Homo sapiens: one gene and its partners. The protein of the gene in region 7 purifies or fractionates together with the protein of the main gene of each other region. This does not show direct contact. Each region holds a gene or a part of one and is shown on either strand. Other genes may lie near its edges. The genes, in order: ACSL3, SCCPDH, MYO5B, SLC25A16, PDGFRL, RAB40C and PPP6R2.

Region 1 (4,160 bases), on a different chromosome or scaffold from region 7:
TTGTAATAACAAAAAAAATGGAAACAGCCTAAAAGTCTATCAAGAGAGCAAAGGGGAAATAAATATGGTATAGACCTAAAATGTACTAACTTGTCACAGTAAAAATAAATGACCTAAATCTACATGAACCCACACTGATGAATTGAGTTGAAACTCAATTCATGAAACCACACTGCTAAGTGATTTTGAGTGGGGATAAAATAAACAGTATGCTGAACAAGAATACATGCAGTACCATCTATATAAAGTTTAAGAATACACAAAACAATACTATACACTGTCTAAGGAAACACACATGTGTAATAAAGCTGTACAGAAATACATAGGAATAATAAACACCAAATTCAGAGCAGTGGTTAGCTGTAAGATTTGGGGGAAAGGAGTGGGTTTCTTTAAGTGGATTAAATTTTATGAAATATTTTTCAAACATACAGAAAGTGCGTCAATATTTTAGTTAAAAGACAGGAAAAGAAAATGGAATTAGCAGACTATGGGATCCCAAATTCCTTTATATTCCAATCTAAAAAGTCAATAACAATTCCTGCGAAGTAAGGTTAAAGGGGAAAGCATCCTGAGGAATTATGTTCAAGTCCAAAAAGAAAATTCTAGGCCGGGCATGGTGGTTCACATCTGCAATCCCAGTACTTTGGGAGGCTGAGATGGGCAGATCACGAGGTCAGGAGTTAGAGACCAGCCTGGCCAACATGGTGAAACCCCATCTCTACCAAAAATACAAAAATTAGCCGAGTGTGGTGGTGGGTACTTGTAATTCCAGCTCCTCGGGAGGCTGCGGCAGGAGAATTGCTTGAACCCGGGAGGCGGAGGTTGCAGTGAGCAGAGATCACACCACTGCACTCCAGCATAGGTGACAGAGCAAGACTCTGTCTCAAAAAAAAAAAAGAAAAAGAAAAAAAAGAAAATTCTAGTTAAATTCTCTCAATTTCCTTATGATTTCCCCGGGGCGGGGGGGGGGGGGGGGGGGGGGGGCGGGGGGGGCAGGGCAGTTTTATTTGGGGCAGCAACTTTGTGTAATTAAAACAGACATAAAACTGCCCCTAAATGTCATCACAGCTCCTTTCCCTACACAATCATGCCTTCAAAGGTTAACATGAACTTCAAACTGTCACTCCAGAGAGGAGATGCAGCGCCCAGGTTAAGAACAGGGACTCTGGAACCAAAGTGCCTGGGATGAAATCCAGCACACATTTAGCACACAATCGTGCAAGTCACTTAAATTGCTCTGTGCTTCAGTTTCCTCAGCTGTAAAAATTAGAATGATAAAAGAACCTATTTTGCAGTCAGCGCAGTAGCTCCCAGCCTGTAATCCCAGTACTTTGGGAGGGCGAGGCGGGCGGATCACAAGGTCAGAAGATCAAGACCATCCTGACTAACATGGTGAAACCCCATCTCTACCGAAAATACAAAAAATTAGCCGGGCATGGTGGTGGGCACCTGTAGTCCCAGCTACTCAGGAGGCTGAGGCAGGAGAATGGCGTGAACCCGGGAAGCGGAGCTTACAGTGAGCCGAGATCATGCCACTGCACTCCAGCCAGGGGGACAGAGCGAGACTCCGTCTCAAAAAAAAAAAAGTACCTATTTTGCAAGGCTGAGATAAAAATTAGAACAGCATTTGGCCACAGTATACTATAAAGGTGTTGGCTATTATCCTTATTCCAAAGACCATTCATTTAGAAAAACAAAAACTAGGCTTTGTATCCAAATAATATAATTAAGTTCAGTTACTTTCTGCATCAAATAGGAGACAGAAAAGTTGACCATGACAGGACAGGGGAAAATGTGCAGCTTTTCACAGCTAGAGCAATCAACATGAGGATAGTAAGATAAGCAATTTTTAATTTTTCTAACAATATTCTTTGGTAGCGTTATAACATCTCCAATGCGTACACATCTGTGTACACACACACACACACACACACACACACACAGAGGATCCAAAATCAAGGTAAAACATTCTATTTCCTGGCTCCCTGTTGACCTGGGAAAACTCCAGTTCATCTTGGAAAACCTAGTTCAGCTATCATCTCCACTGAGAAGTCTCCCCTTTTCCTTCCCTACTCTGTGCCTGCTCTGCACTTTTTCTCTATTTCCTAGCAGATTCCACTGCTGCACTGATTATACCATCCTGTAATATATTTGCTCATATACCTTCTTCTGTTCCACCATGCTGTAATTTGTTCATACACCTCTTTCCTGTGGTGAACTGTGAGCTCCTTAAGAGCAGGAACTCGCCCAATCATTTCCAAATTCCGAGTACCTTGCAAAACAGACACTAAGTAAATACATGAATGAATGAATCCTTAATAACAAATACCTTCACAAACAAGCAGAAAGCTGTATTTGGAGGCCACTTATCCAAAAGGTTGGTTATTTAAGTATCTTCAATTCTAAACAAAAATTAGCAGATCAGTTGAAACTACTGAATCATCCAATTCTTTACCCTTCAAAATGGGAAACATCAAAAATACGTAAATAAACATATTCCAATAATAACAGAAGCTAAACTTTAAATTAAAAGAATTAAGGCACCTATGATGTCAGGAAAACAGAAACCGTCTGAAAGCTTTTTTCTAATGAAACCAAAAATAAACATGTAAGGAAGGCACCACAGGATTTAACATTTACAATGTCTCCTTTTTCAGAAAATAAATAAATTACAATCAAAAGTCAGATGAAAATATATACTCTATTGAGGGATGAAATTAAGACTGAGCCACATTTTAAATCAATCACACAATGCTCTTGCAACAAAGTTTTCTAAAAGACTGTCATGAGTCAACTAAAATTGGGCTAATTTTTAGAAATTTAACAGTTCTTGACAATTTTTGGCATTTGCTTAGTACTCCATAGGTTACAGGCCTGTATTCTGTTACTGTGGAAGGTGTCCCCTCCTCCCAGCAAAGACACAGGCCTCAGTTGTACTTTGGGTCCCATCCCAACCCCATCCTTTTAGGAACTCTGCACAAACCCTTTTCTAGTCTATATTCAACCACTCCCTCTCCACTGAGCCTTCCCATCAGCATTTAAACATGCTGAAATCAAACCTATTGGAAACAGTTTCTGTCTCCGTTTTCCTCACCTCCCACTGCTCCCCATCCCACCCCTACCTGCAGATCAGCATCTCTTTCAAAGGTCACCAGTGACCTCCATGTTGCTAAATTCAATGATGGTTCTCAATTCTTCTCTCATAGGAGCATTCCACAGTACTGACTCATCGCCTTGCAGGAACATCTGTTTCTGGCTGTCCTCTGACCTTCCTGGCCACTCTTGTCTCCTTGACAAGCTCAACCTCCTCTGCCCAGCTCCATCCCAGGCCTCCTTCTCTTCTTATTCTATAGCCTCCCCACAGGCAATCTCACCCATACCCATGGTTTGAGCTCTTGCCTCTACATGGAGGTCTTCAAAACGGTAAATGGCCACCCCAATTCTCAGCACAAAACCAGTACCTCAATAAAGGCCTCAAAGGCAGCTCCAGCTGAACACTTCCAAAACTAAAGTCATGCCCTTCCCATATCCAGAACCTAGTTCTCTACCAGTTAAGCCCCAGCTCAGTGAATAGCACACATACCTCTTTAGTTGCATAGGTCTGAAACCTAGTAATCACTTAGCACCTCTTTCTCCCACTCCATTTACTATTTATCACCATATCCTGACAATTTTTTATCTCCATTTTCTCAGTATTTCTGTTTATCATATATGGCTCTTAAAAGGATCAGATGAGATATGCTAGCACTTTGAAAAAAAAAAACCTTAAATTTGAGTATTAGTATACATTAACTGAAATCTCTTTGAAAGCAGTAACTTTGGCAAGTTCATCTTTTTTATTTATGCCACATGGTACCCCTAGGACGGTGTTTTGCATGCAGATGGCCATTAAGTAAATATATTGCAATGTATTATTTGAATTGGCTTCATACATGTTCAACTGAGACATTTATATATTTTTAACAATCTATATTTCCCAATCCAGCCATCAAAAAATGATCTCCTAAGATGATGAGACTTTTAAGTTAAATGACCCTGTGAAGCGTATGCTACAATGGATACTTTTGAGTCATTATGATGCTCGTTGTTTTAAAAGCCTATCACCCTTGGCCTAGCTTTCCTAAAAAAAATCTAAATCCAATATTCAAGCCCAAATC
Region 2 (4,160 bases), on a different chromosome or scaffold from region 7:
TCCAAGACCTCACACCTCTTACTAAGAATGGCGGATAACACTGGAATTACAGGACTGGGAGAAGTGTGTGAAATTCGAGTTCCTACCCTCCCATTAACAAACCACATGAAATTAATGAAGAACTCTACTTCTGAGGCAGTATGGTATCATGGAACAAAGGATTTCAAGGCAGTAAGACCCAAGTTCACACCTGGAATCCATCACCTACTAACTATATGAATTTACTTATAAATCACTTAAATTGCCTACCAAATGAATAAAACACACATTTTAAACATATTTAAATAGAACTAAAGTTGAGATTAAAACAGAAGTTGAAGCTCCATATGCTTTCTGCACCCAGTGGATTATCCTGGTTGATCCTTAGGGTTTGCACACATCCATTTTAAAACTCATTTGGAGCTTTCTCGGCCTTGTTCTTAAGTTATTTCACCCCCAAATTTCTCAAGTTGGCCATGAGTCCACCTGCTTTAGAATCACCTGGGTTGCATGCTGGTCACTCACTCCCACTCCAGACCCCCAGAATCAGGCTTTCTGAGGTAGACTCCAGTAACTTGCATTGTAAATAAGCCTCACAGGTGATTCTTGTGTACTTCAAAGATGGAGAATCACTGCCCCAGACATTCTCCCAGGAAATCTCACCTACTCTCCCAACTTCAATAAAATCTGTGCTGTGACCTCCAACCTCTATGTCTAGAGTTGCTCACTGATAGGATTTCCCTCTGTTTTTTGTTAGAAAGGTCAGGACCAGTGAGAGCACAGGACATGTAGCATGAGTCACACATAAAACTAATTTCACTTTGCCTACATTTTCCTTTTATTTTCTCTTCCCCCTGATTTTCTCACTTACTTATAAAACATCATATACAAACAGTATATTATTTGTATTTTCTGTCTTGATGCAAGGTATCTAGCAGACACCTCAATTTCAACAAGTCTAAAACCGAATTCATCATCTCTCTCTCTAAACCTATTTCTCCTCCTCCACTTCCTAGCACGTGCTTCAATGTGTAGCCTCTAGGCCAGGTGTGGTGGCTCAAACCTGTAATCTCAGCACTTTGGGAGGCTGAGGCAGAAGGATCGCTTTGAGACCCCATTTCTCTAAGAAAAAAAGTGTGTGTGTGTGTGTGTGTGTATAAAATATGATGCTACGGACTATATATAGAGGCCATATACTTATTATATATATATATTATACATATAAGGACTATATATATATGGCATATATATATAAACACATGGCCAGGCACAGTGGCTCACGTCTGTAATCCCAACACTTTGGGAGGCCAAGGTGAGTGAATCACTTGAGCTCAAGAGCTAGAGACCAGCCTGGGCAACAGGGCAAAACCCTGTCTCTACAAAAAATACAAAAATTAGCCAGATGTGATAGCACCAGTCTATAGTCCCAGCTACTTTCAGGGCTGAGGCTGGAAGATCCCTTGAGCCCAGGAGGTTGAGGCAGCAGTGAGCTGTGTTCGTGCCACTCTACTCCAGCCTGGGCAACAAAGTGAGACCCCCATCTCAAAAAAATAAAAATAAAAAACAAAGTATAGCCTCTAGTTCAGCCTGCCTGGGTCCCACTTCTAACATCTTTCTGTTGTGCTCAAAAGAGGGAAGACTCTGAGACAAAACTGAGCAAATGGCTGAACAGCAGAGTGGTCTAGAGTGTGGGCTTTAAGTCAGGCCACACTTACATCCAGGCTCTGCAGCCACTAGCTGTGTGACCCTGGGCAAGTCACTTTACCTCTCTAAGCATCAACCTCTTCAATCAAAGAATGGTGATGAATAACAACACTCACTTCCCTGGGTAGTTGTGAGGATGAAATAAGAGAATACAAAGAGCTTAGTGTGGGGCCAGGCACATGGTACTCAGATGGCTTCTTTTTTTTATTTAATGGCATTACTCCCCACATAATTCTCAGGTTAAAACCTGGAAGCAGGCTGGGTGTGGTGGCTCATGCCTGTAATCCCAGCACTTTGGGAGGCCGAGGCAGGTGGATCACCTGAGGTCAGGAGTTCAAGACTAGCCTGACCAATTTGGTAAAACCCTGTCTCGACTAAAAATATAAAAATTAGCTAGGTGTGGCGGCATGAGCCTGTAGTTCCAGCTACTCAGGAGGCTGAGACAGGAGAATTGCTTGAACCCGGGAGGTGGAGGTTGCAGTGAGCCTAGATCGCACCACTGCATTTCCGCCTGGGTGACAGAGCAAGAACCGCCTCAAAAAAAAAAAAATCTGGAAGCAGTCTTTCATGCTACCTATCCTGGAAGTCACCAAGTTTTATCAATTCAGTTTCCTAAAATTATCTCAAATCAGTCTCCTCTCCCCTGCACAATTATATCTTAGTTCAGACCCTGTCAACACTCATCTAATTTACTATAAATAGGCCCTAACTGGTTATACTGCAGCCAGCTAGCCCCATCTCCAAATACATAACAAATTGTTATTCTAAAATAAAAATGTGATGTCACCTTTCCTCCTGCCTCACTCCTATAACATATCCACTCTTCAAATCTGATAGACTGGATTAAGAAAACGTGGCACATATACACCATGGAATACTATACAGGCATAAAAAAGGATGAGTTCATGTCCTTTGCAGGGACATGGATGAAGCTGGAAACCATCATTCTGAGCAAACTATCACAAGGACAGAAAACCAAATACCGCATGATCTCACTCACAGGTGGGAACTGAACAATGAGAACACTTGGACACAGGGTGGGGAACATCATACACTGGGGCCTGTCGTGGGGTGGGGGGCAGGGGTAGGGATAGCATTGAGAGAAATACCTAATGTAAATGACGGGTTGATGGGTGCAGCAGGCCAGCATGGCACATGTATACCTATGTAACGAGCCTGCATGTTGTGCACATGTACCCTAGAACTTAAATAAAAATAACAAAAACAAAAAAATCCCTACAGTATATAGTACAAAGTCCAAATTTCTTAGCATGTCACAGAAAGTCCTTAGTATCATATCATACCACAGCCCCTTAATTCTCATGTTCCAGCAGTTCTAAATTCCATGTAATTCCCCAAGCATGCTGCTTCTTCACACCCAGTGTGCTTGCTTCCACTACCTGGAGCACCCTCCCTTCATTCTGCTGGGCCAACTCCCAGCTCCTCCAGGCTCTGCCTTACAGCCACAGGCTCACTTCTCATGTCTGGCTAGTGAGCCCATCAGCTAGGCAGTGTATCTATGAGTACTGGCAGGCTGCAGTGAAGTATTAATGAGCTTATTAAAATAATCGTAGCTCCTTCTGGAAAGAAAACGCATTTTCCTATTTGCCAGTCTGCCCATTCCTTACTTTTACTGCATTTTGTCACATCTGGCCCACTTCTTTGAGTAATCTGGAGTTGAGACTTCTCACTAACTTATTCCTATTTTATGAACTTGCTAGATTTTTCTCCACTTAGTACCCTGTGCTTGTCTGAGACAGGTGAACAGTCAGAGTAGCAATCCTTCATCTCGGGGAGACACTTCTCCCCTGTGAGGCCAATTGGCTCAAAGGTCAGAACCGCAATCCTGCTCTCCATGTCTCATCTTCTTCTTTTTTCTTTTTGAGCTGGAGTTTCATTCTTGCTGCCCAGGCTTGAATACAATGGCGCAATCTCAGCTCACTGTAACCTCCGCCTCCCGGATTCAAGTGATTCTCTTGCGTCAGCCTCCCGAGTAGCTGCAATTACAAGTGTGTACCACCATGCCCAGCTAATTTTTTGTATTTTTAGTAGAGACAGGGTTTCACCATGTTGGCCAGGCTGGTCTCAAACTCCCGACCTCAAGTGATCTGCCCACCTCAGCCTCCCAGAGGTTTGGGATTCCAGGCATGACCCACCGCGCCTGGCCCTCAAAGTTCCATCTTCTAACCCAGTGGTCTCCCAAGTAGTCTTCCCCTAAGGGAAGCGCAGAATGATCCACTGAGGGTGGAAGTAAATATCAGAACTTTTATCCATGTTAATGTTTACAAAAACATGACGTTCCGTTAACGGTTACTATATGGACTGACTACGAGACATTCCCTGGGCCATGTTAAGTGGTCATGTGTTGAAGACAGGACACAGCAGGTATCCTGATGGGGTTGTGGGAAAGTTTCCATCACACAGAGAGGGCCTCAGCACCACTCTTCATTCATTCAGTCGTTTTCACTTTACTGCAA
Region 3 (4,160 bases), on a different chromosome or scaffold from region 7:
CAAAAGGTACAAATGCATATACAGTGAAAAAGCATAACCCTCTTAACCTATTATGAACTTGATTCATGGAAAAAAGCAGGAGTGTTCATGCGAAAGGACACAGCAGTCGGCACGATGCATCAGTATTTATTAGACACTTGCTTTGAACCAAGCAGTGTACTTGGGCACTGAACATGAAATCAGAATTGAGAAATGAGAGCAGTTACATTTTCAATCGGAAGAAAAATTATGTGTAGATGCATTACTCACTGTGCTCTGCAAAGGCTGGGAAGGAAAGTGTACCTGGACCTATTCATAATGCTTTCCCCAGGTTCTTACAACACAAGTAGGTTATGAGTGAATCCCAAGAAGGACCAATCTAGAAATACATTACTTGAAATGAGGTTCATTCCAAACCCTCCTTCCTGTCTGGAAATCTTTTTATAAGGCACCAGACAGAGGGAGAACTGACATATCAAGCTGGAGATACTCAGAATAATGTGAAGGTTAATAGCAGCAGTTCTGGAGTCAGACAGACTTGGGTTTAAATCCTGGCCCTGCCACTCCCTATCAGTGTGACCTCAGACAAGTTATTTAACCGCTTTATACCTCAACTTCCTCATAAAAATGGGTAGTACTTTATAGAGTTGTTGGAAGATTGAAAGAGATACTGAACATAAAGCCCCTGGTGCATAGGTAATGGCTGCTTAGTAAGTATGACGGACCAATGAAGCTCTTATTTACATAGTCAGTGGCTGGACGAGGATGACACCCAGGTTGCTCAATTCTCAAACTGTGGACTTCAGCACAGGCGATACCAAATCGAGCTGGTACATGCCCATCATCTTTGTCTAATTGCCAGTAAATTAAATGAAAATGCTGTCCACAGCTGTTTTATTCCATACAGAAATCAACACATTAGAAATTTTTTGCCAAATGTTATAAGTTCCTAAGCATGTCAACATTGCACACCTCTGGATGGTATCATTGCTAAAGCCCGGAGCACTAAATGATTTGAGTGGTCCAATCTTTGCATTGTTAGTGGGGAATGCAAGCTTCTCTAACTGTGCTTTTATTTCAGTTTCTGCCATGTTGGAAAATGAGAGCATTCAGGGTCTATCTGGTGTGAAGCCCACCGGCTACCGGAAGCGCTCCTCCAGCATGGCAGATGGGGATAACTCATACTGCCTGGAAGCTATCATCCGCCAGATGAATGCCTTTCATACAGTCATGTGTGACCAGGGCTTGGACCCTGAGATCATCCTGCAGGTATTCAAACAGCTCTTCTACATGATCAACGCAGTGACTCTTAACAACCTGCTCTTGCGGAAGGACGTCTGCTCTTGGAGCACAGGCATGCAACTCAGGTAAGGGAGGAGCACCCCCCAACAACACAGATAGAGTGGGCCCTCACTGACTGCAGCTAGAATCAGAACACAAGACTGCTGTTTCTAAAAATGAAATCCAAATCTAATTGACAGTCCTTGTCTCCATCAGTCTGTGACTCAAATCCATCACCTTTTTACCTGTTGGTGAAATCCGTCGAACACTGAGATGGTTGACTTGGTAAACAAATTAGTTCAAAGCTTAAAGATGTTGACATACTCTAAGTTAAAGACTGAATACAAAGCAGATAGGTCAGAGAGAAAACTCAATGAGTTAAGAGGCATGAAGGCTCACATAGAAGTATAAATACATTTGTGAATGTTAAATATAAATACTTACAATTCAGTATATTTAATGCCTGTTTTTCCCTGTTAACTTATGTAGACACTTCAGGTATTTCATCTTTGCTTGATTTTAAGTACCCACTCATTCATTTATTCATTCTTTATTCAACAAATAGTTCCTGAGTGCAAGGCACTTGCCATGCTTTTTAACCGTGTGAGATAAATAATGGCACTAGCTGCAGCGGGCCTGCAAAACACAACAGGTGTCCCCTTCTCAGTGAATTAGGAGGACCGGCTTAACATAGCTTGCTTTCTACCTATGGCTAAGGTACAATATAAGTCAGCTTGAGGAGTGGCTTCGGGGAAGAAACCTTCACCAGAGTGGAGCAGTTCAGACCATGGAACCTCTGATCCAAGCAGCCCAGCTCCTGCAATTAAAGAAGAAAACCCAGGAGGACGCAGAGGCTATCTGCTCCCTGTGTACCTCCCTCAGCACCCAGCAGGTACAGTCACTTTGCACCTCTGTCAACATGGTATTCCAAGGAAGCCCTGAGTCCATTCCAAGTCTGTTCTCGTTGGTGGTTATTTGTTAGTGTTGCACTCCCACCCTTTATATACCCCTAATGAGACAATTTTGAAGTGCAGCTGATGGGATATTCCTAGATGAACCAAAAACCATTTGGTCTGTGAAACAAGATGCCACAGATACTGTTTTCTAGTAACTCTCTATCCCTCTTACTCACTTAAAAAGATAAGGTAGCAAACTCACAAAACGTTAAGTTTAGGTAAAAACTTCTTTAAATATAATGAATTCTGGAATGTTTCTTACATAGAAATCCACAAATTTTCAGAAATTGGCAGCATCAGGTATTTGCTTTCTTTACAAATATAACTGTAAGAAAAACCTTTTCTTTAAAACTAATTGCAATATGGTCATATTTTCACTCACACTCATTTATATTGTTTTAAATGAAGTCATTAAGAACTTAGGGGCATTTAAGTGTTACTTTCCTTTTCCCTAAAAAATGTATAACCATGATTCAGTTGCCGACACATTGCCAGTCCCTGAAAGATAAATAACAAAATCCAAACTCAGTACAGAAAAACACATCTTAATATAGCAAAGTGAACACCTTTCCTTACCTCCTCTGCTTACTATTAAAATATTAAATATCTAACTCTTTAAAAAACTGCTTCCTTCTGTAAACATTTCCAGAAAGTCTTCAAACATTTTTCTTCTCTTTAAATACATTTCACTTAAAGTAAGTTTCCTTCTAGATGCAGCTGGCATTGCATTTGGGCAGTCTACTTCCACCAAACCAGTGGTAGGCAGACAAAAGAGTATCTCCTGTTCAAATACTCATTTGTAAACAATGTTGGGGGACAGGGGGTAGTTAGGTATTAAACAAGACCTTTCTCATCTAAGGTAAGATCTCCAGTACTCTTCAGAAGAAACCTTTAAATTACTAGTAGATATGAGGCTGAGGATTTCAGGCAACTGCATTCTAAACTCCTCATTGTGTATACCAATGAGCATAGTGGGGAGGGGCAGGTGGGTTTACAGGAGACATGAGTTCGGTGAGAGGGCTCAGATCCACCTGACAAAGCTGTGGGCTCTAGTTTCCTGGATGCAGGCTCCAAGTGTAAATGTCAGTCCAGCTCCATCTGTGTTGTGGGCCTTGTCTAAAGAGGATCATACTCTTGTACCAATGTCACATATTCTTTAAAGTTCAAAAGTTGTCTCATGTTCATTTAGCTCTGTGCTAAATTCCGTTTTTATCCCCAACAGATTGTCAAAATTTTAAACCTTTATACTCCCCTGAATGAATTTGAAGAACGGGTAACAGTGGCCTTTATACGAACAATCCAGGTGAGTTTTAAGATAGTAATTTTATAAAGTCCAGTCTACGACTATAAAGGAAATTAAAAATTTGGGCTTTAATCTTGCTTCTCTTTATTACTAAAATACTGGTTACATATATGCTGGGAGACCTTACATTCCTAGACTTTCTACTTAGGTAAACATGAACCGTATCACCCATGAGTAACTTACTGTTTACACACAGAAAACTCAACTTTTATCATCTCTGCCTCTCAGATTATAGACATAGTTTAAGCATTATGTCATTTGCCACTAGCATGTTACTGAACTATTAGCACCAAATGGAATTAACAATGTCAGCAGAATATCAGCCCTAACCATAAATGGAACTAAGAAATGTTCTTTAAAGAAAGCAATTTGAGCTCTTAAATCTTTGTCTAAGACTTATAATATAGGCCAGGTGCGGTGGCTCACTCCTGTAATCCCAGCACTTTGGGAGGCCGAGGTGGGTGGATCACGAGGTCAGGAGATCAAGACCATCCTGGCTAACACGGTGAAACCCGGTCTCTACTAAAAATACAAAAAATTAGCCGGGCGTGGTGGTGGGCGCCTGTAGTCCCAGCTACTCGGGAGGCTGAGGCAGGAGAATGGCGTGAACCTGGGAGGCGGAGCTTGCAGTGAGCCGAGAT
Region 4 (3,500 bases), on a different chromosome or scaffold from region 7:
GTCTACTTAAATATTCTACTATAGAGCAAATCATCTAACAAAAACAAATCTATAGTGTTACTTTTTTTTTAAGAGCAAAGATATTCAGTATTTTTATTTCTGCCTCTGGGAAACACACTGACATTTTAAAACACATGTAAGTCACTCATAGTACCTCATAATAACATTTGAGCAAGACTTAGTCGTTCATTCATTTATTAAGTGGGGTTTCATGATGTTGCATAGGCTGGCATGGAATTCCAGGGCTCAAGTGATCCTCTCACCTCAGCTTCCAGAGTAGCTGGGACCACATGCCCATCCCACCATGTCCAGCTTCTTCATTTATTTTTGTGTCTCTACATGGCTACCTTTTAAATACAACATTAATTTTATTTAAAAAATGAAGGAAAGAAGTGTTTTTCCTATTATCCAGTGGAGCATAATTGTGAGAAGAGAGATAACAAAAATAAAATGTCAATGCTGGCTGTTTCATAGAACTTAAAAATTCAATTCTCATTATTCTATTGCAATATAACCAACCCTGTTTATTTTAATAATAATAAACACTGTCAGTCTTTTAAAAACCATGATAACAATTAAAAACTTTGAACAGCATGACAAAGCTAATGGCAACCTCTTGAACCCCGTTTTAAAGCTAGTTCTACTTCCAAATAAAACTTTAAAGCGGTTTAGCCAGCATCAGCTTAGGAATATTTTCTTCAATGTTCTAAGGTATAATGTTTGGCATCAAAAAGTATGGTAAGCAGTTCTGATTTGTGACTAAAGAAAAAATAATCAAGTACTAAAATACCAGTGGCTCTTGTGACAGGGTAAATATCCCCATTCAAGTAATGTTCCCCCCACAATTATAGTAATGTTTCATTTCTCCCTCTGAGAATGTATTAAGAAAAACCAACCATAATTTTTTTTTAGTTGAGGTGAAAAAACTGCTTCATAAGTTCGTATGTTGTAAAAGCCACTGCTTGAGAGGGAATACAGCGAATGTAATTAAGAGATAAACCACGATAGAGTCCTTTTCGAATTCCATGGTGTCCATAGACATACTTCATAGTATCCCGCATGGTACTGAAAGACAATGATTAAATGATGACCTCTATGCCCACTCATGAAGAAACAATTTCAGGATCCATAATATCAATTTTGTTTTTTTGAGATGGACTCTTGCTCTGTCACCCAGATGGGAGTGTGGATTGCAGTGGCATGATCTTGGCTCACTGCAGCCTCTGCCTCCCAGGTTCAAGTGATTCTCCTGCTTCAGTCTCCTGAGTAGCTGGGATTACAGGCACGCGCCACCATGCCCAGCTAATTTTTGTAATTTTTAGTAGAGACGGGGTTTCTCCATGTTGCCCAGGCCAGTCTCAAACTCCTGACCTCAGGTGATCCACCCACCTTGGCCTCCCAAAGTGCTGGGATTACAGACATAAGCCACCTCGCTCGGCCCATAATATTAATTTTTAAAGAAGGTTAAATGCCATCTTGAATAGCTTTAGAAAGACAAATGTTTTAACAAGTGAAAATTTTTTCATAATAAAAAGGCAAGTCATTCTAAACAAGTACAAGCATTATGCATCAAATTTCAGGACTCATTAGTACAACATATTTTGTTTGTACTATGTCTATGACATTTACTGGACAACAACTATTTCATACTTATATTTGAAATACTAATGCAATCCTTTTAAAGGATGTATATCCAGTTGCCCTTTAAGCCTTTATTATAGCTCAAGTTGTATAGTATCAACAGCAGGTGGTTATAGAACTAAAGCTTGAAGGACTATCTTTCAGATTTCAGCAATGAACACTTTCCTGTTTCAGAGTTGTTCCTTTCCTTTCAAACCAATAATTTGGGCTTGGGCTTTCCCTTTCAATAGGCAATCTGGACCGAAATCTTTTCAAAAATCTTTTTTTTTTTTTTTTTTTAAGAGACAGGTTCTCACTCTGTTGCCTAGGCTGGAGTGCAGTGGCAATCATAGCTCACAACAGCCTCCAACTCCTGGGCACAAGCAATCCTCCCACCTCAGCCTCTTCAGTAGCTGAGACTACAGGCACACACCACCATGCCTCACTAAATTTTTTGTTTGTTTGTTTTTAGTTAAAAAAAATTTTTTTAGAGCCAAGGTCTTACAATGTTTTCCAAGCTGATCTCAAACTCCTGGCCTCAAGTGAACCTCCCACCTCAGCCTCTCAAGTAGCTGGATACAACAAGCACAGGGTAATGCTCCCAGCCCAAAAAATCTTTTGGGTGAACACGGCAATCCAAATTCATGAACAAATGTTCTGCTCTTCCCCTGAGAGACAACATATCACCAATCAAATGGAATGGTTCTAAATTACTATAAAGAAAACTCTGGAGCTGTGCTATACAATCACAGCAGCCACTAGCCACATATGGCTATTAAGCACTTGAAATGTGGCAGTCCAAATCAAGACGTGCTGTGAGTGTAAAATACACCCTGGATTTCAAATAGTTTGTATTTAAAAAAAAGAAACAAAATAATGAAATGTTGAGGTGATAAAAGTTTAGGTTAAACAAAAAATATTTTTAACAATTATATATATATTTTTTCTTCTTTTTCTTTTCTTTTTTATTGACACGCAGCCTCGCTGCCAGGCTGGAGTGCAGTAGCACGATCTCGGCTCACTGCAACCTCCGTCTCCTGGGCTCAAGTGATTCTTGTGCCTCAGCTTCCAGAGTATCTGGGACTACAGGCGCACACCGCCACACCCAGCTAATTTTTTTGTATTTTTAGTAGAGATGGGGTTTCACCATGTTGACCAGGATGGTCTTGATCTCCTGACCTTGTGATCCTCCCGCGTCAGCCTCCCAAAGTGCTGGGATTACAGGTGTGAGCCACCGCGTCCCAGCCCTTTTTCTTTTTTAGACAGAGTCTCGCTCTGTCGCCCAGGCTGGAGTGCAGTGGCATGATCTTGGCTAACTGCAACCTCCGCCTCCCAGGTTCAAGCAATTCCCTGCCTCAGCCTCCTGAGTAGCTGGTATGACAGGCACCTGCCACCAGCCCAGCTAATTTTTTTTGTATTTTTAGTAGAGACAGGTTTCACCATCTTGGCCAGGTTGGTCTTGAACTCCTGACCTCATGATCCACCCACCTCTGCCTCCCAAAGTGCTGGGATTATAGGCGTGAGCCACTGCGACAGGCCTTTTTTGTTTTTTTCAGAGTCTCACTCTGTCACCTAGGCTGGAGTACAGTGGCGCCATCTCAGCTCTTTGCCTCCTGGGTTCAAGCAATTATCGTGCCTCAGCCTCCTAAGCAATATTTTTTTTTTTTTTTTTGAGATGGAGTCTCACTCTATCGCCCAGGCTGGAGTGCAGTGGTGCGATCTCGGCTCACTGCAAGCTCCGCCTCCTGGGTTCACACGATTCTCCTGCCTCAGCCTCCCGAGTAGCTGGGACTACAGGTGCCTGCCACCACACCCGGCTAATTTTTTGTATTTTTACTAGAGACGGGATTTCACCATGTTAGCCAGGAGTACCAGACCAG
Region 5 (4,160 bases), on a different chromosome or scaffold from region 7:
ATTTAAGAACACAAAAATATCTTCTTGTATTTTTATTTTTTGAGACAGGGTCTCACGCTGTTGCCCAGGCTGGAGTGCAGTGGCACCATCATGACTTACTGCAGTTTCAACCTCCAGGGCTCAAATGATCCTCCCACCTCAGCCTCCTGAGTAGCTGGGACTACAGGCACGTGCCACCATGCCTGTCTAATTTTTTATTTTTTAGTTTTTCTAGAGTCAGGGTCTCACTATGTTGCCCAGGCTGGTCTCAAACTCCTGGACTCAAGCAGTCCTCCTGCCTTGGCCTCCCAAAGTGCTGAGATTACAGGCATGAGCCAATGTTCCCAGCCTTACTTCTTATACTATAATATATACTTTACTTCTTATACTATAATACATACTTTGAAATGTGACCAAACCAGTTGCTTTAAAAATATATTTGCAATCCGTAGCTTCCATCAACAATAACAAAGTGTTGAAGTTTGTTTTAATAATTATAGATTACACATGTCCCCTGCAAATGTATTTATATCCACTTATCTAGAAGACAAATGTTTTACTTAAAGAAAACTAAACACATGGGATTTTAGATTAAAAAAAAAAACTCGACCAGGTGCAGTGGCTCACGCCTGTAATCCCGGCACTTTGGGAGGCCAAGGCAGGCGGATCATGAGGTCAGGAGACCGAGACCCTCCTGGACAACATGGTGAAACCCCATCTCTGCTAAAAATACAAAGATTCGTTGGGCACTGTGGCGCATGCCTGTAATCCCAGCTACTCGGGAGGCTGAGGCAGGAGAATCGCTCGAACCGGGGAGTCGGAGGTTGCAGTGAGCTGAGATGGTGCCACTGCACTCCAATCTGGCAACAGAGGGAGACTCCATCTCAAAAAAGACAAAAAAACAAAAAAATGCGGGGGGGGGAGGGATAGCTTTAGGAGATATACCTAATGCTAAATGACGAGTTAATGGGTGCAGCACACCAGCATGGCACATGTATACATATGTAACTAACCTGCACATTGTGCACATGTACCCTAAAACTTAAAGTATAATAATAATAAATAAAAATAAAAATAAAAAAATAAATAAATGCAAGTTAACAAGCTATAAACTAAATCCAAATTACAACAAATTCAGTATTTTGAGACAGTCTCACTCCGTCACCCAGGCTGGAATGCAGTGGTGCCATCTCGGCTCACTGCAACTTTGACTCGCTGCCTCCTGGGTGTAAGCAATTCTTGTGCCTCAGCCTCCCGAGTAGCTGGAATTACAGGCGTGTGCCACCATGCCCACCTAATTTTTGCATTTTAGTACAGAGGGAGTTTCGCCATGTTGGTTAGGCTGGTCTTGAACTCCTGACCTCAAGTGATCCGCCTGCCTCGGCTTCCCAAAGTGCTAGGGGATTATAGGCATGAGCCACTGCACCCAGCCAGGAAAGTACTTATTAATGTGGTTTTCCTACGTATAAAAATTAGAGCCTCAGCCTTTTACTATGAGAAAGCTCTGCTGCTGGTAATGTTCTCATCCTTGATCTGGGTGGGAGTTACATGTGCCTGTTTGCTTAAGGATAATTTATTGAGCTGTATTCTGAGAATTTGAATGTTTTTCTTTACATATGTTATACTACAATAAGAAGTGAAAGAGAAGCAGGGAAAACCTTCCAAGATCCTCCTGGATCAAGATGAAAGAGGAAATACATACGGCAATTATTTAATCACAAACTGCACACTAACAACAGTCAGTCCCCCAAAAGAAGCTTCAGTGTTTTTAATCAAACTCTAGGAAACATACAAACATAATGAATGACAAACATTTCTCCACATGGGTAGCCAGGAAACACATGTTCTGAAAGAATCCTGAGCCAGCAGTGAGAACCTCAGCTTCTGTAACAGCCCATCTTGGTTTCTCAAAGCCATCCATGCTTGAAAAGACAAATTGCCAAACCCTATAGTAAAAATCCAACTGGACTCCTAGCTTAGTGTTGACAAATAAGAAAAAATAAATGATGTATAACACATTAGGTCAAATGTGTTACAGCATTTATTTTTTTTGATCAAAGTTTCTTGATAGTTGGAATGAATATATTTTAGCTTTTCTTTGGTTCCCAAAATTAGTTCAGTTAAAAAAAAAACAAAAAGGTTCCGCCTCCAAAACTCAAAGAGAGCCCGTATTTTTTTTTTTTGAGGTAAAGTCTTGCTCTGTCGCCCAGGTTGGAGTGCAGTGGCGCAATCTTGACTCACTGCAACCACCAACTCCGAGATTCAGGCGATCCTCCTGCTTCAGCCTCCTGAGCAGCTGGGAGCACAACTGTGCACCACCACGCCCAGCTAACTTTTGTATTTTTGTAGAGATGGGATTTCTCCATGTTGGCCAGGCTGTTCTCGAACTCCTGACCTCAGGTGATCCGCCCGCCGTGGCCTCCCAAAGTGCTGGATTACAGGTATGAGCTACCATGCCTGGCCAAGAGCCCATAATATTAATAGGATATTCTGCCCAAGCTAAGCCTGCAGTTCAAAACCTCGACCAATACTTTGGGAAGACACAACAGTGCTAATCTTGGCAAAGAATCTTCCTTCTGCAACTTGAAATGTGGAATCAGTCATTGACTTGAATAACAGACTTTTATTCATCTTAGTTGGTTGCTTTTTCCACTGTTGCTTCACAGCATGGTATAATACAAAGGGCACATTTACAATCTTGTGTAGCGAGTTCCAAAATGAAGATCCAAAGAGATTGCCTATGAACAATTATTAGCAATTCTCCTGACAACACCAGTTATGCTAGCTAGAATCTGGCTATCAGTCCATCCTTCACCTTGTCCTACAAAAGGTTCAAGGCAGTAAAAACACTGGATCCTGGGTCAGAAAAACAGGTTTGGCTCCTTATTGTGCCACTACAGGTCCTGGAACATTGAGGCTCAGCATGAGCATTAGTACTTCTAGTATTTTGGAGATAATAAAATAGCTTTTGCTTATTTCCCAGGGATGTTGTGGAATGAAACTGATAGAGGCAGGAGGCAGAGAACTCTCCTAAGCAGATACGGGAATGTCCTTAGAGAACCTCTGACCTACCAAGGTCATTGTGCACAGGGGTCTTGCCTAAACATACCCCCAGTGAAAAATTCCATCCCTTAACACACATGCAGTAAGGGAAATAAATCAACGTGGAGTGACTCAGATTAAGGGCCTGCAGGTACACTGAAAGGATGGGGTGGAGCCGCCAGGAATTCACGCCTCTTACAAACAGGGAACCCAGCCCTACCGAGGGAACATAGAAGCCCTTGTATTCAATTGTGTGGAGAGCAACCTGCAACCTGCTTTCAGGACCCCTCTTTTTGCTGAGAGCTTTCCTTTTCGCATAATAAATTCTACTCCACGCACTCTTTTAAGTGTCTGTGTGCCTAAGTTTTCCTGGCATGAGACAAGAACTTGGATCTCTGAACTAAGGAGTAAAAAGTCTGCATCAAAATGAGATACATGTGCTTCCAGAACTGCAGCATACCCTACTAATGCATCTCCTTGCCAGAGAGGAGCTATTTGGGCAGGAAAGGACAAATACATAAGATTGTACTAAAACATTCTTTAATGGTCAGGGCATAACATCCTTTGGGTCATAGGCCTATGTCTAGGTCTAGGCCTATGTCTAGGTCTACGTCTGAAAGGTAGGTGGATTCAAGGCATGGAGAAATTTCATGAAAGTCCCTGCCCAGGCACTAACAAAGGATTCTGGTTTCACCTGAAATGTCTTGGACGACAATAGGACGAGGGTGGCTTTGTAAGATTCCTGAAAGCTCTTACTGACTTCTGAACCTTGCTGGAGAACTTCATCCCCTAAACTTCAGAACTTAGAGAACATTACAGAAGAAAGAGGCTGAGCAGTTATTCTGCACACGTGTTTCTCAAAATGCAAGCTCCATCTTCCAGAAACATACTTTGCACTGCAGAGAAGAGTTCTCCACTCTGACCTGAACATTTTGAGGCAGTCCACTGAGGCTTAGGGACAGGGACTGGAGACACAACAGCCACAATCTTTGGGAATCTTGCCCCCGAAATCTCAGCTCATAGTATTCACAAGAACAAACAGGGCTGAGCAGAATGGCTCATGCCTGTAACTACAGCAATTTGGGAGACCGAAGCAGGAGGATAGCTTGAGTTCAGGAGTTCGAGACCAGCCTGGGCAA
Region 6 (4,160 bases), on a different chromosome or scaffold from region 7:
GGGCATCCCAGCCCCCCGCCGACGGGCTCCACCGCGGGCATCCCAGCCCCCCGCCGACGGGCTCCACCGCGGGCATCCCAGCCCCCCGCCGACGGGCTCCACCGCGGGCATCCCAGCCACCCCCCCCGACGGGCTCCACCGCAGGCATCCCAGCTCCCACACAGGGAGGTCTGTGGGACACGAGGCCAGTACAGTCGTGATTTCTGTTCAGCTGCATGAGAACTAAAAAAGAAAAAAGCAGTTCATAAGCTCTGCATTTGCCAGGCTGAGGTCCTGGAAAGCAAGCTCTGTTATCATCTCCGTGTTCTTTCCAAAGCATCTGGCACAACTGGTTATGTCTTTGTTTTGTCTTGTTAACTCTGGAAATTCTGAGCTGTCATTTTCCACATGCGAGGAGCAGGTTACAGACCCAGGTGCACATGTTGGTCCTGGGTTGAGGGTGCCAGGTGCTTCCTTGCCCCGGGAGAAGCACCTGAGTCTCCAGGCGGGCCTCTGACCGCCGTGACTGAGCATTTGGGCCACCCCGGGAGCCCAGCCCTGTCCTGTGTCTCTCCTGCCTGGTGAGCAGCGGTGAGGTGCGGGTGCATCCAGCCGAGGTGCAGAGCCCAGGTTTGCAGCAGGGTTTCTCCCGCCGCCCCTGATGAGACACAGACTAGCAAGGACTGTCTGTCCCAGCCGGGATTTGTCACTCTGCCTCCCTCCGTTAGAGAGTGGAGAGGCCTGGAAGGTCCCCGCGGCCTGGGTCTTGCAGATGGCACCAGCAAAGGCCACCGGCCACTCCCCGCTGCCGTCACCTGTCACACAGCAGCAGTCCCGCGGCTCTTCCCGCGAGGCCCTTCACGTGCCGCCGAAGGCCGGGCTCCCTAGACTTCATGGTCGTGTTTGCATATTCTGTTGCTGTGATCTGAGACGGCCCCTCTCAGAAGCGGGTGCCACAACCCGCTGGTGGGATGAGTGGGTCACCCAGGTGCAGGTCCCTTGGTGTGTGGAGGGTGGGGTAGGCTCCTTGTAACTGCAGTGTGGCTGACGGGATGTGCCATCCTGTTTAGCTGAGAATTTGGGGTCAGCGGGCTTAGTGCCAGGAAGGCTGTGGCCAAGTGCCATGTCTGCTTCAGGACAAAGGTGTGGATTTGTTTCCCTGAGAGGGGGTTTATGTGGAGCGTGGTACGGGAGGCACACGTGCTGCTGGCTTGTCGGCACACAGGTGGGCGGGTGGATGTGAGTGGGCGCGGCTTGGCAGTAGCTCCCATTTTACATGTCAGTTGCTCCTGGGCAGAGCCTGGGTGCAGGGATGCAGGAGGAGGGCTTCACTCTCGCTGGCTGTACCTTGGGAGCTTCAGCCACATGGGTGGAAGGGGCATGTGTTTGTCAAAATTCATCAAAATGTTCAAACCTCGGATCTTTGTATTTTGTGCTTTGTAAGTTACAGCTCAGTAAAAAATGATAGCAAAAAGGACACCCACTCTTAGGCCCAGCAGTTCTACTTCTGGGAATTTATCGTGTAGGTCGAGTTGATCAAAAAAAGGTGTAAACGTGCTCAGATGCATATTGCCACCGTTACCCAAGAGCTGGCGCAGTACCAGTTCACGAGCAGGCGGGGGTGCTGGGCCTGAGCTCAGGGCGTGCGGGTGGGAGCAGCGCCAAGTGCCTCCACCCCCTTGACCCCGCCCGCGAGGCATGAGCGGCACCGTGGACACGTCTGTAGACGCTGAGGAAACTGACTGTCAGGGCGGCTCCTAGAGGGGCCTAGAGCAGGGCGAGCGCGCGTCCTGACTCATCCCCTAGAGCACTCGCTCGTTCTTTTGTTTTGTTTTTTGAGACACGGTCTGGCTCTGTCGCCAGGCTGGAGTGCCGTGGCGCGATCTCGGCTCACTGCAACCTCCGCCTCCCGGGTTCACGCCATTCTCCTGCCTCAGGCTCCCGAGTAGCTAGAACTAGGTGTGCACCACCGCGTCCAGCTAATTTTTGTATTTTTAGTAGAGACGGGGTTTCACCATGTTGGCCAGGATGGTCTCCATCTCTTGACCTCGTGATCCGCCTGCCTCGGCCTCCCAAAGTGCTGGGATCGCAGGCGTGAGCCACGGCGCCTGGCCGAAGTCGCTAGTTTTTTAAAAATCAGATCAGTTTTAGAAAACAGAAGGCAGTGGAAGAGTCTGTTTGTCCCGTGCTCTGCCCCTTGAGACACGCAGCTGAGGGTGCTTAGGGTGCCGTTCGTTAGGCGGCTGCTGGTCACCGAGAGTCTCCTTTTGGTTTCTCACTCCGTGGTCATTTGGGTCCCTGCGGCCTCACTGTGACCCACGCCGGAGCAAGCCTCCGGGTCCTCCTGTGCCATCGCCCCTGCCCGTAACCCCTACTCCTCAGACATGGCCATCCCAGGAAGTGGGGGCCCGCTCAGGGCAGCAGCCGGGAGGTGTGGCCAGGGCCCCCCGCGTCACAGCACACTTGGAGCCTGAGGCAGCCCATCAGCCGGGAGGCGGGCCTTCTGCTCTCTTTCTAGAGTTTTCAGTGTCATGCGAATAGGGGTGTTTGCCACAGAAAACAGGTCAGCATCAAAAGTTACCCCTCTCCAGCCTTTTAGCATTTGTTTTATGTCCATATAAACTTCTTCAGTGTAATGTGTTGTGTGTTCATACTTTTATTTTTTAAAAATCATGCTGGGCCGGGCGCGGTGGCTCACGCCTGTCATCCCAGCACTTTGGGAGGCCGAGGTGGGCAGATCGGGAGGTCAGGAGATCAAGACCATCCTGGCTAACACGGTGAAACCCTGTCTCTACTAAAAAAAAATACAAAAAAATTAGCCGGGCATGGTGGCGGGCGCCTGTAGTCCCAGCTACTCAGGAGACTGAGGCAGGAGAATGGCGTGAACCCGGAAGCGGAGATCGTGCGGCTGCACTCCAGCCTGGGCGACAGAGTGAGACTCCGTCTCAAAAAAAAAAAAAAAAGAAATCATGCTGGGCTGGGCACAGTGGCTCACACCTCTGATCCCAGCACTTTAGGAAGTTGAGGCAGGAGGATCACTTGAGGCCAGGGGTTCAAGACCAGCCTGGGCAACATAGCAAGATCCCATCTCTAAAAAATGTTTAAAAAAACTTAGCCAGATGTGGTGGTTCACACCTGTATTCCCAGCCACTCAGGAAGCTGAGGCTCAGAATATCAGGCTGCAGTGAGCCATGATCGTGCCACTGCATGAACCCCAGCCTGGCTGACAGAGTGAGACCCTGTTTCAAAAAAAAAGAAAATGCCATCCGCAGTGCTGGGACCTGCGTTCTTACCTCACCTGGGTTGCACATCTCTCCTTGGCCAGCATGCACGCTTTTACATGCACTGCTGCTGTCTTCAGCATCTGCACGGTACATTTCACTGCCGCTTACTCAGCTGTCCCCTGAGGCTGGACATTTAATTTGTGTCTGGCTTGTCGTTGTTATCAGCGCCACTGTGACACACATCCTCAGTTACTTCTGAGTTGTGGGCTTGCCATGCGGGAGGTTGCCATGCGGGAGGTTGCCACTAGGGAGAGTGGGCTGTGTTGTACGCTTTGGTGGCCCACTCCCCAGTCTCTCCACCTCCCCCAGCAGCAAATGAGCCAGCCCCAGTCCCTGTGCCCCAACCTCCAGGGTTAACCCCTGGGTGTGCATTTGTTTATTCTGAATCTTATCATTTATCGCCCACCAGACTGACTTGGCCATCTCTGGCCTCGAAGGGTCTCCCTCAGCGAGAGGTGTCCTTCCTGAGCTGTCGCTCCATCCTGAGCAAGGCCTTCGCCCTGGGAGCTTAGTAATGTCAACCTTGTTCTAAACAGGACCTGGGGCTACACTTCAGTCTTCCAGATATCGAAAGATGGTTCTAAGAGGCTCTAAAAACCCTAATTTTCAGATGGACAGTGCCCTCTTCTTTCAGCCTCAGCCTCTTGTGTGATAGGCTCTTCCATTACGTGAAGGTTTTGTCAGCCTAGGAGTAGGGTGGATCACAGCTCATTGGCTGGATCTGGTTGCAGAATTGTAGGGTGGGAGTGGACGTTGGGGAGAGGCGGGCATAGGGGAATGGGCCTGTGATGTCACCGTTTCGCCCGACAGGGCTCTGAGTGTGAGCAGTGTGCTCCCCTGTGCTGCTGGAGAGCCATGACTGTCACTGCCGAGATATTTAGGGCAGGTGGAAACAGC
Region 7 (4,160 bases):
CCTGCTGTCTCCCGGGGACATCAGACGGCACTCCCGGCAAGACCTCAGGGAGCTGCCTCCACGGGAGCTCAGCAGCAGGGAGAGCCGCGCCTCGTGCAGAGTGCGCTCCAAGTAGACTCACTTGATGTTGTCGTCCTGGTCGGCAAACTCCTCATCATTGAAGCCAAACTGATCCACGAAGTTGGCTGTCATCTGCTGGATCTGGTAGTCAGAGAAGGCCTGGGAGGGAGGGAGGGAGGGAGGGACGGACAGACACCGGTCATGGAGGAGGCATCAGGCCTGGAGGCTGCTCTTTGGGAACCACAATCTCTCTAGTTGTTCGGGAGCTTCTCCTCCAGCACAAGTGGGCAGTAAACTCTGTTCAGGGCTCACGATTCTACCAAAACTCAGGCTGCGCGCTCGCTGCGGTCACATCTGAGATACGCCCCATATTCTCTGACTTTCGAGTCCATCTGCCGTGTCCTCAGTGCTCTCATCAAGGTGGAGTGACTTTGGGGTTCTCCCTTCAGACCCACCCCGCCCCATACGTGCTCGGAGACGAGCCCCCGCTCCCCTTTGCTAGTGAGATGCCATCAGACTCGTCTGGAGGACCAAGCGCAGCGCACACAGGTGCCGGGAAGGGCCCGGCAGGGTGCAGGTGCCGGCCACGCCCTCACCTGCTGAAGGGACAGCTCGTTAGGGAAAGCACCCTCAATGTCCTCGTCCTCACTTGAGGAGTGAAGGTGGTGAGTGCTCACCTAAAACACAGGCCAGATGGGGTGGGCGTGTGAGCCAGCCCAGCGCCCCAGACCCCACCCAGCCCAGCGCCCAGGACCATGCCCAGCCCAGGGCTCCCAGACCCCACCCAGCACATCACTCATCAGATCTCTGGGCCCAGGAGGCCGTGCTGTGTAAGGAGGTGCCTAGGTGAGGCCAAGGCCCCGTGACAGCCCGACCTCCATGTGCAGGGGGCAGGTTGTGGGTCTCAGGCAAAAGGAGCCCTCTGCCAACAAGCTACAGCTCCTGGAGTGGGAGGAAAGGGACCTGAGGCCAACACCGGCTCTGCACAGAGGTCCTCAGAGACCCAGCCCTGGGTGTGGCACAGGACGGGGTCTCTGTTACGGACATCAGCCCGGAGGACACACTATGCAGGGGCACCGCATAGTCAAGAGGAGCAGGCAGGCGTGCGGCCCTTGTGCCTCCCTTGGCCTCTGCCTCAGGGCAAAGGCAGGAGCGTCTGACGGCGTCCCAGCACCGTGCGTGCACCGAGGGGGCAGCCCCGAGCCTCCTCACCAGGTCCACAGTGTTCCTGCGGTTCGTCTCCGTCAGCGTCTCCTCCACGAAGCTCTCCCAGCGGCCACGGCAGTCCGCAGGGAGCCCTGCAAGGGAAGTGCTGCCTGGTGAGCCCTGGGAGACCCCGTGCAGATGGTGCAGGGCACCCGGGGGCTCCGGCAGGTGCATCCTGGGTCCGGGAGGATGGGGCGCTGCTACTGTGGTCAGCCCGTCTGAGGGCCTGAAGCAGGGGCTTTGCCGGATGAGAAAGAGGCAGCATAGCCGCGTGTCCGGAGGGGCCTGGGGCCACAGTGAGATTGAGGTGCAGCACCTGTGGGCAGGGTGGTGGGCACTTCTGCCCCTACCGAAACCCCAGTGGGCATCTGAGTTCCAAGTCTGTTGGGTGGAAGCCCATTCTGAGGAACTCCCAGAAACGCAGAAGCCGTGGAACAGAATCTGAGAAAGCAGCCAGCTTCCTTCCCCCCACCTCACAGGCCCAAACTCAGCAGCAGCCTACAGGCCTGGGCGCGTGTCCTGCCTGTTTTTCCGGGGAGGTCAGAGTCCTGGAAGGATTCACAATCTGGAGATCGTATGGAATGATCCAACAGCTTCCTGCTTGCCCCTCGCCTCCTTAAACTGCCCCTGCCCTGGGGAGCTGTCCCTGGCCTCCACCTCCACCCATCTACTTTGCCCTCCAGGATGTGGGGAAGCTCCTCCTGCCCTGCTTTTATTATTTGTGATGGCAGCCGGCAGGCCTGACCTCGCCAGGGGCTAATGGAGCCCAACCCAGGAGTCCCCTCACTATGGTCCTGGGGTGCGGGGAGGACTATCCAGAGCTTCCTCACCTTACACGGGTATAGGGAGGAGAGGCCACAGCTGGGCCCGCCTCTGCCACACATGTGCTGTGCCTGCGCCCACCTAACCCACTGCGTTCTTAAGAAACAGGCTGCAACCTGCTCCCCTGAGACTTGTGCTACGAAATCTCACACCTGAGTGAGAATGAGACTCTCCAATCACCTGAGTGCAGAGCACACAGCCAGGACAGCCTAGCCAGGCAGGGCTCCCTGAGCTGCAAGGAGCCCGGTGGCGCTAACGGCTTCTGAGTGCCAGCTCCGGAGTCACCAACTACCCCGGGAGGGACTGTCTCTTGTGCCACACGCTGACGCCTGGCAGGGTCTCCACAGAAGTCCGCCCAATAGAACTGACACATGAGACCCAGGCCCCCACGAGGAGAGATGTGATGTGTGAAGTGAGAGGACAGAGGTGGCCATGGGTCTCTCACTGTCAGTGCAGTCAGCACCTGCTGCCGGGCAGAGCTTAGTCTCAGGCGGCAGCTCCTTCGGGGTCCCGGTGCCCGCGACCAGCAGAAGGATGACCGGGTTGGGGGCTCACCTCGGATGACCTCGCTGATGTGCGTCTGCACAGGGCCCCGCTCCAGGTTCTGCACCACCGCGTTGGCGATCCGTGTGAGGTGGCCCATGTTCCCACGTCTCATGCCACCCGCTGCCCTGAAAGCAACAGGCACCATCGGGGCGGCCTCCTGGCCCCGACCTTGCCAGACCCACGACCCAGAGAGCCAAGTGGCAGAGGCCTCCAGGTTCACTTCGGAGAGCAAGTGCCCGGCCCCTGCCCAGTGTCCGCGCCCCCGGCCCTCCTCCAGGTTCACCTCCAGAGCAAATGCCCGGCCCCTGCCCAGCATCCATGCCCCCGGCCCTCCTCCAGGTTCACCTCCAGGGCAAGTGCCCGGCCCCTGCCCAGTGTCCGCGCACCCGGCCCTCCTCCAGGTTCACCTCCAGGGCAAGTGCCCGGCCCCTGCCCAGCATCCATGCCCCCGGCCCTCCTCCAGAGCAAATGCCCGGCCCCTGCCCAGCATCCATGCCCCCGGCCCTCCTCCAGGTTCACCTCCAGGGCAAATGCCCGGCCCCTGCCCAGCGTCCGCGCCCCCGGCCCTCCTCCAGGTTCACCTCCAGGGCAAATGCCCGGCCCCTGCCCAGCATCCATCCCCCGGCCCTCCTCCAGGTTCACCTCCAGAGCAAATGCCCGGCCCCTGCCCAGCGTCCGCGCCCCCGGCCCTCCTCCAGGTTCACCTCCAGGGCAAATGCCCGGCCCCTGCCCAGCATCCATGCCCCCGGCCCTCCTCCAGGTTCACCTCCAGAGCAAATGCCCGGCCCCTGCCCAGCATCCATGCCCCCGGCCCTCCTCCAGGTTCACCTCCAGGGCAAGTGCCCGGCCCCTGCCCAGCATCCATGCCCCCAGCCCTCCTCCAGGTTCACCTCCAGAGCAAATGCCCAGCCCCTGCCCAGCGTCTGCGCCCCCGGCCCTCCTCCAGGTTCACCTCCAGAGCAAATGCCCGGCCCCTGCCCAGCATCCATGCCCCCGGCCCTCCTCCAGGTTCACCTCCAGGGCAAATGCCCGGCCCCTGCCCAGCGTCCGCGCCCCCGGCCCTCCTCCAGGTTCACCTCCAGAGCAAATGCCCGGCCCCTGCCCAGCATCCATGCCCCCGGCCCTCCTCCAGGTTCACCTCCAGAGCAAATGCCCGGCCCCTGCCCAGCGTCTGCGCCCCCGGCCCTCCTCCAGGTTCACCTCCAGAGCAAATGCCCGGCCCCTGCCCAGCATCCATGCCCCCGGCCCTCCTCCAGGTTCACCTCCAGGGCAAATGCCCGGCCCCTGCCCAGCATCCATGCCCCCGGCCCTCCTCCAGGTTCACCTCCAGGGCAAATGCCTGGCCCCTGCCCAGCGTCCGCGCCCCCGGCCCTCCTCCAGGTTCACCTCCAGAGCAAATGCCCGGCCCCTGCCCAGCATCCATGCCCCCGGCCCTCCTCCAGGTTCACCTCCAGAGCAAATGCCCGGCCCCTGCCCAGCATCCATGCCCCCGGCCCTCCTCCAGGTTCACCTCCAGAGCAAATGCC

The links.
Region 1: the proteins of PPP6R2 (region 7) and ACSL3 purify together in Homo sapiens (affinity purification with mass spectrometry; one large-scale study listed by BioGRID and IntAct). This does not show direct contact.
Region 2: the proteins of PPP6R2 (region 7) and SCCPDH purify together in Homo sapiens (affinity purification with mass spectrometry; 2 studies listed by BioGRID and IntAct, with this or other methods). This does not show direct contact.
Region 3: the proteins of PPP6R2 (region 7) and MYO5B purify together in Homo sapiens (affinity purification with mass spectrometry; 2 studies listed by BioGRID and IntAct, with this or other methods). This does not show direct contact.
Region 4: the proteins of PPP6R2 (region 7) and SLC25A16 purify together in Homo sapiens (affinity purification with mass spectrometry; 2 studies listed by BioGRID and IntAct, with this or other methods). This does not show direct contact.
Region 5: the proteins of PPP6R2 (region 7) and PDGFRL purify together in Homo sapiens (co-immunoprecipitation; one large-scale study listed by IntAct). This does not show direct contact.
Region 6: the proteins of PPP6R2 (region 7) and RAB40C purify together in Homo sapiens (affinity purification with western blotting; one study listed by BioGRID). This does not show direct contact.

What each region holds. Positions count from the first base shown.
Region 1 is NC_000002.12:222,863,581-222,867,740, reverse strand, and holds part of ACSL3 (fatty acid CoA ligase Acsl3), read right to left. Parts: intron 1-4,160. UniProt on the Homo sapiens protein: Acyl-CoA synthetases (ACSL) activates long-chain fatty acids for both synthesis of cellular lipids, and degradation via beta-oxidation.
Region 2 is NC_000001.11:246,730,467-246,734,626, reverse strand, and holds part of SCCPDH (saccharopine dehydrogenase-like oxidoreductase), read right to left. Parts: intron 1-4,160.
Region 3 is NC_000018.10:49,834,703-49,838,862, reverse strand, and holds part of MYO5B (unconventional myosin-Vb), read left to right. Parts: intron 1-1,060; coding exon 1,061-1,346; intron 1,347-1,977; coding exon 1,978-2,152; intron 2,153-3,438; coding exon 3,439-3,519; intron 3,520-4,160. UniProt on the Homo sapiens protein: May be involved in vesicular trafficking via its association with the CART complex. The CART complex is necessary for efficient transferrin receptor recycling but not for EGFR degradation.
Region 4 is NC_000010.11:68,482,524-68,486,023, forward strand, and holds part of SLC25A16 (solute carrier family 25 member 16), read right to left. Parts: intron 1,094-3,500; coding exon of another isoform or gene 1,066-1,093; coding exon 909-1,065; 3' UTR 1-908. UniProt on the Homo sapiens protein: May be involved in the transport of coenzyme A in the mitochondrial matrix. Very little is known about the physiological function of this carrier.
Region 5 is NC_000008.11:17,621,876-17,626,035, reverse strand, and holds part of PDGFRL (platelet-derived growth factor receptor-like protein precursor), read right to left. Parts: intron 1-4,160.
Region 6 is NC_000016.10:620,711-624,870, forward strand, and holds part of RAB40C (ras-related protein Rab-40C), read left to right. Parts: intron 1-4,160. UniProt on the Homo sapiens protein: RAB40C small GTPase acts as substrate-recognition component of the ECS(RAB40C) E3 ubiquitin ligase complex which mediates the ubiquitination and subsequent proteasomal degradation of target proteins.
Region 7 is NC_000022.11:50,433,565-50,437,724, reverse strand, and holds part of PPP6R2 (serine/threonine-protein phosphatase 6 regulatory subunit 2), read right to left. Parts: intron 2,760-4,160; coding exon 2,644-2,759; intron 1,359-2,643; coding exon 1,273-1,358; intron 738-1,272; coding exon 657-737; intron 220-656; coding exon 122-219; intron 1-121. UniProt on the Homo sapiens protein: Regulatory subunit of protein phosphatase 6 (PP6). May function as a scaffolding PP6 subunit. Involved in the PP6-mediated dephosphorylation of NFKBIE opposing its degradation in response to TNF-alpha.